Linked DNA regions of Homo sapiens: region 2 is linked to region 1. A link means that fine-mapping ties the variant in region 1 to the expression of a gene that starts in the linked region. Tissue or cell type: whole blood. Region 1 holds a variant in brackets; the other region holds the start of a gene. All regions are shown on one strand. Distances are from middle to middle.

Region 1 (8,155 bases):
CCTAGTTATAGCTTCCTTTGGCCTTTATTAAAGGGTAATATCAATCACAGTCATAGCAAAGAAAGCGGATGTATTAATGGCAAATTAATGGAAAACCTCCCTTATCAGGAATCTAGACTCAGAATTTAGGAACACAAATCAAATCAGACCAACCAAGCTATAGCCAAGGACTTGAAAGAAATTAAACAAGACCCAGAATAAATCAAGGAATTAGAAATTGTTATTTAAAAATTTCAGATTGTAACTCCAGGCCCTGCTGTCTATATTGCAGCCACTAAAAGCTCACTACCATTAGATTTTTGCTAACATACATGTATTCAGAAGAAAGCCTATTGAAATTTTCATTGTCTTGTAAAAGGTTGTCCTAGTAAAATGGAAAAGATCCTTAAGTTATTAATCAGTTTGAAAAGCAAATTTGTTTTTAAGTTTTACATCAGCAGGGCAGTGTCTTACAAAATTCAGAAATTGCAAAGGTGGAAATAATTCACGCTGATTTGAAGAACATCTTCTGTGCAATAATACTGCCTCTCTTGAAAAGCATTGGCTGTTTTTTCTTTTTAAATATATCTCTAGATGCTTTTAAATGTGGCTGTGTTCCCTTTACCAAGATTGGCTTCAAGTTTCCGCAGGTAGAGAGACCTGGGCTTGAACAAGAGGATGTGTTTCATGTCCTGCTGAGGAGGTAGAACATGTGCAGCCTGGGTCCGGGACTGCCTCCGTGGGGCAGGGGCAGGGGCGGTACCATTAGGGAGGAAGCTTAGCATTTCAGTTTCTTAAACAATATTCAGGGTGATACACTTTTTCTTCCCTTGCATTTTAGAATAGGCTGGTATCTCATTTGAACGGGGGAGCAGACTTGATCTCAAATGAAGCTGTGCCCAGGAGCCAGGCTTAGCATATTGAGATTTTTATAGATACCTTAAAAAATAAAATATTTAAACCTCTCTTTTCTTCCTTTTTCTATGAAATAGGTTTTTTCTCTAGTTTACAAATGACATGAAAATAGGTTTTATTTGTGTTTTATCTGCTTTATTTTTTGATGCTTAGACAACAGTTAGACTTACTGAGCTCCTAAAAAAACGAGGAAGAAGTCCTTATTTGTGAAAAGCACTTTATGAGTAATTGTATAGACAGTATGTGGCTGCGTCACTGATCATCTTGTAAGGGTGTAACAGTCTTGTCTGTAAAGTGGCTGCAGTGCCTTCTGTAGTGTGTTTTATTTTTGGTAGGGAGAGGTGAAGCCTTCTGAAAAATTTGAGAGCAACTACAGAGGATTGTTTGTAACTGTGTAGTATTCCTGATGGACTTTTTTCATCGTTAGAGTCAAGGACCTAGACTTTTGCCACTGAAATAATATTGACCAAAAAAATAGTTTATAAAAGGGATTTGTGAATAGAAAATTCAGTGTGATCATTTGTTGTTAATGTGCACCTTAAAAGAAGATTCTGTCTAGCTGTCAAATTCTGGTTCCCGAATATCTCACCCCTGATTGTATTTGAGATCTAGTAGGGCATACTGGGGCATTTTAGAAGATAAAATCCCATACAAATGATATATGCTATATTTATGTTGGTGTTGGAGAAGAAAGAGCAGTATATAAAGAAATAATTCAAGACTGCAGCACTGTCAACCTGAAACTTTGTAAATATTTCCTAGCTTCTGGTTTGGTGCGGTGACAGCACTTTCATCACAGGATGTTACCTTGTATTCACCAGGCGGAGTGCGAGCTGCTGCACATCCTCCTCAGATCTCACCTGTCCCCACTGTACATCCACCCGCCAGCTGCTTGCAAACCTCATCTCTAGCTTTAGTTCGAAACCACATTGCAGGGTTCAGGTGACCTCTACAAAAAACTACCTCTTCAGAATGAGGTAATGAATAGTTATTTATTTTAAAATATGAAAAGTCAGGAGCTCTAGAACATGACGATGATTTAAGATTTTAACTTTTTTGTGTACTTGTATTTGAGCACTCTCATTTTGTCCTAAAGGGCATTATACATTTAAGCAGTAATACTGTAAAAAAATGTGTTGCTCGGAATATCTGAATGTTGTTGAAAGTGGTGCCAGAACCGGTTTAGGGGTACGTTTCAGAATCTTAACCTTGAGTCAATTGCATGAAATTAAATAGCTGTGGTATCACTTCACTAACAGTGATGTAATTTTAATTTTCAGTAGGCTTGGCATGACAGTACATCCTCATAATGAGTTTGCTGCAGCTTTGTCACATGCACAGGCATTCATAGAAAGACCACCCAGCTAAGAGGGTAGAATGATTACTCTTTTTGCAAGATTCTCTTCTTTGTCCAAGTTGGCATTGTTAGTGCTAGGAATACCAGCACCTTGAGACGAGCAGATTCCAACCATTAGGCTATAAACACCATAGCCAGAGATGGAAGGTTTACTGTGAGTATGAACAGCAAATAGCTTACAGGTCATGAGTTGAAATGGTGTAGGTGAGGCTCTAGAAAAATACCTTGACAATTTGCCAAATGATCTTACTGTGCCTTCATGATGCAATAAAAAAGCTAACATTTTAGCAGAAATCAGTGATTTGTGAAGAGAGCAGCCACTCTGGTTTAACTCAGCTGTGTTAATAATTTTTAGAGTGCAATTTAGACTGCATAGGTAAATGCACTAAAGAGTTTATAGCCAAAATCACATTTAACAATGAGAAAACACACAGGTAAATTTTCAGTGAACAAAATTATTTTTTTAAAGCACATAATCCCTAGTATAGTCAGATATATTTATCACATAGAGCAACTAGGTTGCAAATATAGTTCAGTGACATTTCTAGAGAAACTTTTTCTACTCCCATAGGCTCTTCAAAGCATGGAACTTTTATACAACAGAAATGTTGACAGAAATTGCTGTAGTTTAGGGTTGAAGTACTGTATGATGGGCAGCAATCATGTATTAACTTAGAAGGGGAAATTGAAATATAGGACCGAATTTGGTTTTATCAGTTTCCAGAGTACTGCTGCCAACCTAGACACTGATTTTTCAGAGTTTGAAATGTAAATTTCTTCCCGGGACTTGATTGCACATGAAGCTGGACTGCGTTAGTCATCCTGTCCCAAAGCGCTGTGGGGGCCAGGGTGGAGGTCTCAAGGCATCCTTTATGACCTGGCCATTGGATGTAAAAGAAAACATATTCCATGCTGTGGTTCTTGTATCTTGTTTCATTCCTCACCATTGAAAGAGAAAGTCCATGTATTGTCTCCAGCACATCCTTGAAATGTTATACTGGGATGGATTACTGATGCCCATCGGTAGTTGAGCCCCAGAAGAGGGTAGTAGCATCTCTGCCTCAGGTGATGATTTGTAGCTTGGCCAGAGGAGAGCGGAGTCACCAGTATATCTGTGGTCCATGTTGCTAGCTCTGGTAAAATTAAAAATACTGGTAAGATGTTTGTTTTATTAGTACACTAGACAGTAAGCTCTGTTTTGTTGTTTTCAAATAACCTATTTTCACTTTTGTTTGGGCAAAGACATTTAAATTGAAATTCAATTCTAATTTTTGTTAATTGTGGAAAGGGTAATTAACAGTTCCTATCAGGTATTTTTAATGTGGAAAAGGACAGAAACCCAACTCCTAAAATCTTAAATTAAGGTAACAGTGCTTTAAAAAAAAAAAATGCATGGGGCAATTAGTCGGCAACTCAATGAGTGACTAAAGTACTTTTATTTAACATCCACAACTTCAACTGTTAAGTTTTATTAATTACTAAATCAGCTTTATTAAAATGTTGACATTTATTTAGCTATTTTGAATAATTATAGTGACTTGACGAGTGTGTATGAGGACACAGCCAATGTAAGCCAGTGTATCCATTTTTTAGAGGTGCATTTTTTTTTAAAGAATTCTGTAGATAGAAGTGCTCTGAAAACAACTAAAATATGTTTATTCATGGTAGTATCAAAAAATGTTTGTACAAACCATCTGCTTCTCCCGGCCAGCCGAGTTCATTCTCCAGCACCGTGACCGCTGGTTCTCATGTACAGCACATATGCGGGAGAGTTGGCAGAAAATTTGTGAAGAGATGCCGCAAAGGAAGGGTCTGTTGACGGGTGGGATTGGGGGTTTTGATGAAGTTGCTTAGTCCTGGTTTTGTTTTGAAAATTACTGCGTTGCATTTTTGTGTTAAGTTTTTGAACCCACGTGTGTTTTGGTGGAGTATGAGTTGGAAGTCACTGCAAACTAGCATAAACAACAAAGCTCACAGAGTAGGCACAGATGTAGAGAACAGAGACCAAAATGGGGTGAGGTGGCAGTAAATCTAGGATAGGGAAAAATTAATGTGAGGGTGGGAAATAAACTGTAATTACCTGAAATCAAATGTAAGAGTGCAATAAGTATGCTTTTTATTCTAAGCTGTGAACGGTTTTTTTAAGAATCATTCCTTCCTAATACATTTGTGTATGTTCCATAGCTGATTAAAACCAGCTATATCAACATATAATGCCTTTTTATTCATGTTAATGACCAACGTAAGTGGCTAGCCTTTATGTCTTATTTATCTTCATGTTATGTTAGTTTACATACAGGGGTGTATGTCTCTGTGCTGTCCCCTTCTCCTGCCTTCATTTTAAAATGCATCCATGGGTCCTCCGTGTTTCCTTTGGCCATGCCACATATATAGACTCAGTTTGGCCTTCATGATATCGCCTGATTTTTGAGGACTGTATCACAGTGATATGTATTTGTGGTAATCTCATTTGTTGGTTGTACATCTGATCCTTTCCTCAACATGGCAATTGCTGCCTTTCCTAAGATAGGATCATACAACTGATCAGGGGATTGAATTTGATCATTCATCAACATGTGTCTCTGAATTTTATTCAGTAGTTGTCATTGCTCTTTGGTTTAGACCAAGAAAAAGGAAATCCCCCCTTTTCATGTATTCCTTGGTTTGAGGACATGACTCCTGTAAGGGAGA[G/C]GAAAGGGAGATGCTTCCTGTTTGAACTGCAGTGAATTCACGGTTCCTGTTTCACCACTCCAAACCTTATGGCGACTCACACACACATTCCTCTTTTCTGTTACTGCCAAAGGTTCGGGTTTAGTACACTTCAGTTCCACTCAAGCATTGAAAAGGTTCTCGTGGAGTCTGGGGCGTGCCCAGTGAAAAGATGGGGACTTTTTAATTGTCCACAGACCTCTCTATACCTGCTTTGCAAAAATTACAATGGAGTAACTATTTTTAAAGCTTATTTTTCAATTCATAAAAAAGACATTTATTTTCAGTCAAATGGATGATGTCTCCCTCTTTTCCCCTATTCTCAATGTTTGCTTGAATCTTTTATTATTTTTTTTAATTCTCCCCCATACCCACTTCCTGATACTTTGGTTCTCTTTCCTGCTCAGGTCCCTTCATTTGTACTTTGGAGTTTTTCTCATGTAAATTTGTATAACAGAAAATATTGTTCAGTTTGGATAGAAAGCATGGAGAATAAAAAAAGATAGCTGAAATTCAGATTGAAGAAATTTATTTCTGTGTAAAGTTATTTAAAAACTGTATTATATAAAAGGCAAAAAAAGTTCTATGTACTTGATGTGAATATGCGAATACTGCTATAATAAAGATTGACTGCATGGAGAAGTCTTCATCAAGACTATTTTTCTAACACGATTACATTCAGTAACAAAAGTAGTCAGCAGTTTTAACAGTTTTTCTAGACAATGGAGAGACTGAGAAATGTACATTTTGTTTCATACATAATGTTGGTTACTGCTTAGTGGGTAGAAGTTCAAGTAAGTTGTCAAGTTTCATGCATGGTAGGTTATACGTGCTATACAACTTGCAGTGGCAACAGTCGTTTGTCAGGTGTTGGTGATGACCCTTAAATATTTGAGATGTTGTGACCTGATGTATCTTTAGTTTCAAACCACTGCTTTCCTCCATGTGGTTCAGTTGGAGTATGTGCTCTACTTTAGTCATGTTTAAAGTTTATCTGCAGAAACTCACCTTAGAATTGTATTTTTTCAAACTTTTGACAGCTTACATTTTCTATAGCAACACAGCACACGCACGCTAACATTTACTTGAAACTATGCACTCATGTTTTCTACTTCATTTTTTTTTATGCTGGTTACCTCAGTGAGTTGATTTTCTGCATTTGATTTCATGACCCTTCCCCAAATAAAATTCACTGAAGTCTGAAAAACTCCTAGAGTATCTTCAGACAAAATATATCAAATTACTGGGCAGAGTTTCCAGAAAGGAAGTAAACCGTTTTAAAACTCATCTGCAGCCAGGTGCAGTGGCTCACGCCTGTAATCCCAGCAATTTGGGAGGCCGAGGCGGGTGGATCACCTGAGGTCAGGAGTGGAGACTAGCCTGACCAACATGGTGAAACTGTCTCTACTAAAAAATACAAAAATTAGGCCAGGTGTGGTGGCTCACGCCTGTAATCCCAGCACTTTGGGAGGCCAAGGCAGGCAGATCACCTGAGGTTAGGAGTTCGAGACCAGCCTGACCAACATGGAGAAACCCCCTCTCTCCTAAAAATACAAAATTATCCGGCTGTGGTGGCGCATGCCTGTAATTCCAGCTACTCAGGAGGCTGAGGCAGGAGAATCGCTTGAACCCGGGAGTGAGCCGACCGAGATTGTGCCATTGCACTCCAGCCTGGGCAACAAGAGCAAAACTCCATCTCAGAAAGAAATAAAAAAAAGCTGGGCATGGTGGCCAGCACCTGTAATCCCAGCTACTCGGGAGGCTGAGGCAGGAGAATCGCTTGAACCTGGGAGGCGGAGGTTGCAGTGAGCTGAGATCACGCCATTGCACTCTAGCCTGGGCAACAGAGCGAGACTCTGTCTCAAAAAAAACACTTCACCTGTTTATCCTTATGTCTGAGAATAATATGAAGGAACAGAAAAGCCTAAAAAGGGCTTGTGCCTGAGGAATCTGGTTTCACCCCTCCTCCCAAACAATAAAATGTTATCAAGACTTAAAAGGCTAAGGCAGGAGGATTGCTTGAGCCCAGGAGTTTGAGGCAAGCCAGGGCAATATAGCAAGACACCCACGCTAAAAATAAAAATAAATGTCAAGACTTAATTTCCTATGAACTGCAGTTTTTCTCTTCTGAAAATGGTAATTCTATAATATAAACATCATAGAAATTCATTTTCTAAACCTTCATGTGTGATTACAACAGAGTAGATGTGGCTTTAAGAACATACTATACCATATATGTGAGGTTTTCCTTAAAATTTAGCCCAGAACTATGGACACTTTGGTTATTATAAAGTTGTATTATAAAGAACTCTACCACACTAGCTCTTCTGAAATTTTATCAGGGGCTGTGACACTTGGACCTACTGTCTTTTGAGTTATATAGTTCTCCTAGACTCAAAATGTTAGGGCAAAAAGTGTTCTTAACACTGAGTTGGGCTCAATGGCTCACGCCTAAATCCCAGCACTTTGGGAGGCTAAAGTGGGAGGATCACTTGAAGCCAGGAGTTCCAGACCAGCCTGGCCAAAAAAAAAATTTAATTAGCTGGGCATGGTGTCACGCACCTGTGATCCCAGCTGAGGTCGGGGGAGACTGCTTGAGCCTGGGAGGTCAAGGCTGCAGTGAGCTGTGATTGCACCACTGCACTGCAGCCTGGGCGGCAGAGCAAGACCCTGTTTCAGAGAAAAAAAAAAACTGGTCCAACTCCTCTCCTATCAGTTGCTGAATATGCAGCCCCAAAGGATATGACTCGCTAGGCTTATGTAGCCAGGACCCAAGATCTGTAACATGCATTTTACATAGGTATATATTACAGATATATAATTTTGTCACGATGGCTGTAACGAGATTTGGATAGAAATGGGTATTGACTCCATGACAGTGAGTTCATAGCCAGAAATGGTTGTTGTGTTAGGCATGCTCCACTTGTCCCTACTGTTGTCATCACCAATCTGGGAAGACACTGCTAGTGTAAACAAAAGGCACCTGCTGAGGCAGGTCCACACGCCACCTCAGGGAGCTCCCATTTCCCTGACACTGCACGTTGGTGTTTCCCACCATTGCTCCTGGTGAAATGGTTGCAGCAGGCGACAGGGTCAACCTCTTCTATAAAATAGTTCTAGGGGCAATTGGAACCAAGATGACTTCTGTATCTTCCTATAACATGCATATAACAGCTGTTCTTCTGCAACACCTCT
Region 2 (8,155 bases), 290 kb before region 1:
TCTGTGTGTATATTGAACTTTGGTTTTCAGCTTTTAGGAATAACTGAAGAAGAATAATATATAAATATTCTAGAATAGCTCTAAACAATTTTTTGGAAATCATAATCAAAATGTTTCCTATATATTTAATGAAGAATAAAAGAATATGCTATTTAAAAAGTAATCAGCCTAGAAGCTAAAGCATAATTTTATTTTTGTTAATAAGAGGCAGAAAGAAAGTCAGGATTGAAGTATTTCTCTATTTCATAATAGAATTTGATAAAAATAAGTGTATCAGACAAGATAGGCTAGGTCATGCTCCAATAACAAACAACAAATTTGTATGACTTAAAACAGAGGCATGTGAATTAAAACAACAACGGCTCATTTCTAACAAAAGCTATATTTCCAATATGGCTGGTGGAATAGGATCAGCCCTTCATAACAACTCAGGAGCACAGGCTGACAGTGCAACAACTCTCTGTCTCAGAAGGGAAGGAGAGCTCTGGAGTTTCATCAGGGTAAATAACCACCTTAATCGGAAGGTGACGCTTCACATCTGCTCATAACTCATTGGCCAGAAAAAGTCCTAACCATGATCCTAACCAATCTCAGAATTCCCATGAAATACAATCTAGCCAAAGTGGAAGGAAATGGAAAAGATTTGGTGAACTGTATCAGTGATTATCACAATACATTTTCACATTCATTGAACAACACACACCAAATCTAAAATAAAATTATGTATGACTTTTGCACAGTTTATTCCAGTGCAATGTGAAAAATATGAAGGTACCTGAAAATGATCTGTATGATATTTATAATGATCAGTGTCACGGCCAGGGGCGATGGCTCCCATCTGTAATCCCAGCACTTTGGAAGATGGAGGCAGGTGGATCACCTAAGGTCAGGAGTTTAAGACCAGCCTGGCCAACATGGCAAAATTCTGTCTCTACTAAAAATACAAAAATTAGCTGGGCGTGGTGGCAGGTGTCTGTAATCCCAGCTATTCAGGAGGCTGAGGCACAAGAATTGCTTGGACCCAGGAGACGAAGGTTGCAGTGAGCCGAGATCATGCCACTGCACTCCAGCCTGGGCAACAGAGTGAGACTCTCTCCAAAAAAAAAAAAAAAAAAAAAATCTGTCACAAAGCTCTACTACTTCAGCTGTTCAGAGTTGCTTTTCTTTCCAGATAATGCTATATCCTATGGAGAAGTACTGAGAATAGCTGAAAAGAATTGCTTAGGTTTAAATATACGGGAAAAAAAATTGGCTTCGATACTTTCTTCAGTGCTGCTTTGCTCTGCTCTTACCAGATTCTCCTTCAAAAACACTGCACTTTTCAACAGAGGATGGAAGACATCTGATGGTTAAAGGAAAATTACTGTCACTCTTACCACTAACATTCACACAGTATATCTGATTTCAGAAAATCACAACAAACCAATTACCATATTTCTGACAGCCGTACTTCACCCTTAAGTGGAATATATGTAAGATAGGAAAAGACATGAAGCCTAAGAAGGGTTGATGGTGCCTTGATTGATCATTAGAGGAAGCTTCCTCCAAAACATTTTGAATCTTCCTTTCATCTGTCATCCTGGAAGGTATATCCCTCACACCTTCAGTGATGGATATACCTTTCTTTTGTAAGGTCCAAGAACTACTGTAAATGCAGATGTAAAAAAGAACCTACATGATGCTAAGAAAGAATACTTATGAAAATACGGTATCTGTAAATTGATTTACTTAAAGCAATAAATATTCCCCTGCCCCTTGGACTATGCCACACCATAAGAACTTTAAGTTGATGTAGCTTTAATTCTTGCCCTGCCTAATGACAAAGAACATTTGCCAAAGAGTATGATGAATAATGAAATCACTTAAAGTGGAGGCTTTCCATTTTACCACAACCTACAGCAAGAAATATATTTATATTATGATCCAATGCACATATACATATTGTTTCATGAAACAATAATTACCCCTACTACATGTGATGCATTTAGATATTTTTTATCCTAATGTCTTTCTTTTAATGCTGGTCTCTATTCACTAAATTGATTTCACAGCCAACTAATGATTCACAGCACACAATTGGAAAACACAGGACTACAGAAAATAGAAATATATAAGGAAATATCTGATTTATAGAGCAATCTCTGATTATAAAAAGTGCTCTTAAAACTGCATTATCTTGGCGGTGTAAATGGGTAAGCCAAGGTCTGGTGAAGTCAATATCCATAGGAGGTTCAATTTTATTCTATTCATTTCATTTTTCCATCCCTAATATTCCAACTTTCCTATTGATAAGTAACAGTCTCTGATTGGCCAATTTCAATGGCTTACTCCTTCTAATCCTGTGGTAGGCTAAAACTGTTCCCCAAAGATAACAGAGTCTAATCCCTGGGACCTGCAAATGTTACCAGATACGGGGAAAAGGCCTTTGAAGATGTGACTAAATTAAGGATCTTCAGATTGAGAGAGTATTTTGGATTAGCTCCATGGGCCTTAAATGCAATTACACATTCCTAAAAGGGAGGCAATGGGAAGTCTGACACACATAGTGAAGGCAATGTGAAAAGGGAGCAGAGATGTGAAGATGTTGGCCTTGAAGTCTAAAGTGATGTGGCCACAAGCCAATGAATGCCAGCAGCCACCAGAAGCTGGAAGAGTCAAAGAACTGATTCTCCCCTAGAGTCTCTGGAGGGAACACAGCCCTGTCAACATCTTGATTTTGGCCCAGTGATGCTGATTTTGAATTTATGGCCTCTAGAACTGTAAGATAATAAATTTCAGTTGCTCTACAACACCAAGTTTGTGGTATTTTATTATAGCAGCCTCAGGAAACTAATATGAACCCCCATGAAATTGACTTAATAAAAGTGATAGTGCAAAGTACCTAAACAGTCACCTGAAACTCTATATACCTAGCTATGTTTCAAGAAAGATTTATGGTAGCTTATAGTAATTCACAAAACATTGATAACACCAATAATTCATACGTGAAAAGGAAAAAACAGGAAGGATATACAAAACGAAGCCAACAAGGTTTATGCAAAAAATATATATATGTGTGTGTATATATATATATACACACACATATATATAGCTCTTGCCTCGAGCCAATTAAAATTTGGCTTTAAACCAGCAGCTTACACGTAAAGGAAGTCTTCTTGTTTATATGATTCAGTGGCCATTACATAAAAACAAGCCAACTCCACAGAAACAAGTACAAAAGACAAGACGAAATTTCTCCCAGGAGTTTCGCTCCTTAGGACTTCTTTTCTGGACTGTAGCCATGTATAGGATACTCATTACCCCTTTGTAAACTTAAATGTAGTCACTAGACCCAACTTTATAAGGCTGTTTACTATATCATATAAGGCTGATAACATGTCAAAACTTAACTTGATAAAAGCAAATCCTATAGCATAGATTGATTAGACGTCAAATTCTAACTTAAAAGTAAATTCTGTAGGAGGAAAGAGGGTGTAAATACAATACCCACTAGGTAGGCAACTCACTACCGATATTAATTCCAGGGTACATTTTGAAATATTTATAAAATGCCTTGAACGATACTCAGAAAACGAGTACAGTTTCCTCACCCAAACTATCAAACATTGAGTAAGTGCTGCATACAATGCCTATGGGATGTGGCTTGCTTGAAAACAGATTTAGTATGGGGTGAAATACTCACAATGCTTTCTACTATCTGCCCAGCGAGGTCTAAGATAACTACTGAGGAGACAAACGTTCCATCCCCTACTCCCTGAAGAAGCTCCTGGGTCAATGGGGGAAAGCGCTCCTAACCCAGTAGCAAGGAAGGCTTGCAGCTAGGGATCCTAATTAACTATTAGAAGATGAGCAGATAGATGGAAGGGGAGGGGGATGGCGCCGCAAGTCGGTCAGAAAGACCACACGGCACACGCATCGCCATTGCTTCAGAGCTTTTGGAGGCAGGTCTGTAGCCATTCCCACCAAAACATACTACCGAACCGTGCATGCCCTTCCAGGAGAGCCAGACCTTTCTAACTCTCCCCAGCCCACCACCTCCCCGGGTCCTCCGCACAGGCGGCGGCGCTAGCCTTACTGCGCAGGCGCCAGGTACACCTCGGAGGCCTCAGGAGGGGGAGCCAGTAACTCCGGGTCGTTCACTAGGGCTCCGCTCTAGCTGCCAAGCTTCCGTTTCTCTACTGCTCCCCGTAATAGTTGCCTGCGCGAGCTTGGAGCCGGGTAGAGGGCGGGCCTTCCGGGACGAGGGCGCGTGGGTGAGGAAGGTCAGGTCTAGGTAAGGCTGTCGGTGACTTTGGGGGTCTGCAGCAAGGGGCGATGGCTGCGAAGTCTACGGGGGTCTCCAACCTTGTAGAGTCGCCAGGAATAGGGCGAATCCACTTCATTAGTGACCAGCTCGGGCGGTTCACGTGCATCACACAAATAACTTGGCCTTTTTCTGCCTCAGTTGGGGGATTTCTTAAACGTAGAATACCCGCGTTTCCGCTGCCGTAATTTCCTCTCAGGCGCAATTACTCTCTTCCATATTGGTTAACAGTAGAAGGCTCAGTTTCTCTGCTCATCACACGGCCTTCGGCACTGTAGCTTTGGGTGGTGGGCTGCAGATTAATTTTGTAACCACCTTAAGAAAAATACGGTAAGGTGATATTTAAGAAAAATATTTGCGAAATGCGCTCCCGAGTCAAACATCGGTTGACTTGACAATACTACAGTTTCCATCACAGTCAGGCATGATCGAGTCAGGTGGAGGGAGTTGAAGATTGTTCTTGATGAACTGAATGCAGCTAATACATTTTCAGTGCCGTTGATGCCTCTATGACTCCGTAAAATAATCGGTACCGGGTTTTTTTGTTTTTAAGCATTCTGTTGAGATTGTTTTTATGTTTAGATTGTTTCTATGACAACGTGTGTACACTGTATGTGAATTCCTTGGATCCTGATGGTTATTAGGGTGGGCACTGTGCCGTGAATTTTGCATATTAGCTTCACATCGCAGATAGTATGACTGTCCTCGTGTAGTCGATGAGAGAACCTGGCAGAGAATAAGCACCATTACAAAAACGACGTGGCCATTAAAAGGCAGAGGCGAGATTCCAACCAGCTTTTTTATTCTGCAGCTGGTGCGTTCTGCTAACCAATGGTTTTTGGGAAACTGGAGAAAGCTCTCTCCCAGAACAATTTACACACACACATACATACACATATCGGCATACAGATGTACACTTCCACTGTTTTCAAAACGCTGAAGCACATCCCGGTTAAGAACTCTTGCACTTCATCTTTACCTTTCAAAGAGAAAAGGCAAACCTAATACAAAGCCACTTATTGAAATAATCTTTTAAATGCATCAGACCTATCAAAAAGATCAAAGAAGTTTGCCCTGTTATGCCAAAGTAAAAATATGGGAATTTTCTTCTCATGTGGGCTTAATTTGTTTTGCTCAGCACATTTGAGTAATTTGTTTTTGCTTAGCATTTTCAGCTCCAGTTAACTTTTTTCATGAGAGTACAGTTTTCTTTAGTTCACATTTAAAGAAAGGTAACACTTAAAGTGACTTGTACTCCCCGAGAATGGTTTCATGTGAATCAAAATGTAATTGACATGCACGTTGTAAGAAAAGCTCCCGTGTTATTCTTCGTGAGAGACATGTGTCTGTGCACTGTGGAAGGAAACAACAAAGCAGTGTCATTGGTAATTGTTAAAACCACTTTCAGTTTCCTCCTGTTTAGCAAGTGGGCCTTTGTTTCTAGTAAGGGATTCAGGTTTGAAAAGGCTTATTCCCTTTCTCTGTCATAAAACTTTAGGACTTGGATTTTATGATATAACCATGTTCCAGCCTATTCTAGTGTGACCTTTTTACTTACAAGTTATGTATCCCAGTAATTTGCCACATTCCAAAATGGGCATGGACATAACAGCAGCATCCTGTGATGGCTTCAGTGACTACTGTCCTACTGAGTCCCTTCCTCCTCCTGGCTATCTTGTCAAGTTATCAAGGTGCTGGTCCTCTCCCTATGTTTCTCTGGCTGTCAGTCTTTGTAAATGAGGTCATCATTCCAGGGAGGCACAAAGTTTTTACTATATGGAGTATCTATCTGTCTGTCTCTCTCTCTTTTTTTTTTTTTCTTAAACATGATTAAGAACAAGGAATAAACAAATGTGTCTATGTAGAATATATGAAAACCAAACTTACAGATCTGGGCTCGTTCTTTTTTGTAAGTTACCATTTACTACTCAGTGCCACTGTTACTCATTTTCGCACTAGTCATGCAAGCTTTGTTTTCAGAAAAGGAGACTCAGAGAAGATGAGTAACTGTTCACAATAACCCAAGGATTAAGTGACAGAGCCAGTAGTCAAACCTAGGCCTCAGGAATCCCTGTTGCCTCTTCATTGACAAATAAAGGGACTTGGAATTCAGAACAGATTTTCCTGAAAACACTGTAACAAACTGATAGTTCCCATACCAGCTTACAGATAACTAACTGTGGAAATACTGTGCAATTACAGCAGAAATATATTCTGATGCCACAATGGTAATTAAGCAAACAAAGCAAAGTTGATGAAGCAACTATTGTTTTTTAATCTAATGTTTGGAAAAAGGTAACTTTAAAGGGCAAAGGAAGAGAAAAAGCATGCAAAGAAACTAGGTGACTCTGGACATTTGCAAGGCTTTTTAGAGGTTTATGGCACTGATTTGTTTATACATTAAACTGCTAAATGAATTTTTTTCACCTTGAGACTATAACCCTAGTCCTAACAACCCCACCCCCAACCAGAGTTGGCAAAGAAGTGAATCAGGAAACTGAGAATGCTGAATGGAAAAGGAAGAACAGGCTTGTAGGTGATCTGCAGATGGTGGGGAGGGAGGGGTGGACGTTGGATCTGACAGTTCTACCGTTGCCAGCCTTCAGGTGGCACTATTGACCCAAAATTGCTTGGTTGGTGTTCTGAATGGTTTTGAGGTTGACAGTGGTTTGAGATCAGCCTCTGCTTTTTTTTTTTTTTTTTTTTTGACACACAATCTTGCTCTGTCACTCAGGCTATAGAGTACAGTAGTGCAGTCATAACTTAGTGTAACCTCAAACTCCTGTGCTCAAGTGATGTCCCCCTCCTCAGCCTCCACGAGTAGCTGGAACTACAGGTGTGCACTACCATAGCAGACTAATTTTCTTATTTTCTTTTGTTTTTTGTTTTTTTTTCTGTAAAAACAAGATTTCTCCATGTTGCCTGGGCTGGTCTTGAAGTCCTGACCTCAAGCGATCCTCCCACCTCAGCCTCTCAAAGTACTGGGATTATAGGCATGAGCTACCATGCCCAGCCTCCTCTGTTAATGGATCTTGAAACAGGCATTAAAACTTCCTTAATTTAAACACGGTTTGTTTTCTTACAAGAACTATTTTGAAATTCACTTGGCACCATTTTTATGTAGGAGGGTTTTTGGTACATTTCTCCCATTGGTTTTTCAAAGTTTATGCCTTTTTCCTGCTTGAATATCAGCACCTTTTCATCTCAGCTGAACTGTTTCCCAGGATAGTCTCTGAGTCAGCAAAGATTCTCATCTCACTACTAAAATTTCTCATAAATTGGCATATTCTGCCAACAATAACCCCTACGTCTGGTCTAAACTGAGTTGAGATAGTTATTCCACCAGCAGCTTTCTTGATTTTTATGTATCCCCTGTATAGTTTTTTATGTCTGTTAGCTGTAATTCGTGCATATCACGGATATCATTCTTATACCCATTTCAGTGTTGTATGTCTCTGAAGAAAAAGCTACTGTTTCCAGCTGATAAGAACTTAGGTAGTTTGCATTAAAGCAGAATATATAAGATGGAGGATACAGCAAGTAACCTTACAATTCATACGTGCCTTCTATTTAGTAAGAAAATGGATCTTTTGAGCTATTGGATTTATTTTTATAGGGCTACTGTCTGTTTTTCCCAAATGGCTCTCAGTCTCTAGGCAAAATTCAGTTCAGTAACCTAGAAGCCAAATGACCTCATAACTCATTAGCAGCTCTCAGAGCCTTCTGGAGCCCTTGAGGAGAACAGTGTTCAAAGGACTGATAGTAAAGACAACATAATTATGTCTCTGCCATGATTACACCTTTTGATGGCAAGCAGTCAGCATATTAATGCTGCAGATTGCTTAGGTGGGT

Evidence for each region. PIP is the estimated chance that this variant, and not a neighbour inherited with it, causes the effect.
Region 2: it holds the start of MRPS33, and the variant in region 1 is fine-mapped to the expression of MRPS33 in whole blood (INTERVAL, PIP 0.90).

Annotation. Positions count from the first base shown.
Region 1 is chr7:140,716,781-140,724,935 of GRCh38, reverse strand. It overlaps a transcript of BRAF not described here. Among named protein-coding and RNA genes, the nearest start is that of NDUFB2-AS1, 24 kb to the right of the region's middle. The variant G/C (reference allele first, on the strand shown) is at 4,943.
Region 2 is chr7:141,011,029-141,019,183 of GRCh38, reverse strand. It overlaps MRPS33 (mitochondrial ribosomal protein S33), which reads left to right and starts at 4,232. Exons shown (of 3, transcript NM_053035.3): 1 at 4,232-4,273. RefSeq lists enhancers at 3,704-3,903, 4,424-4,473, 3,936-4,581, 5,724-5,793 and a silencer at 4,051-4,359.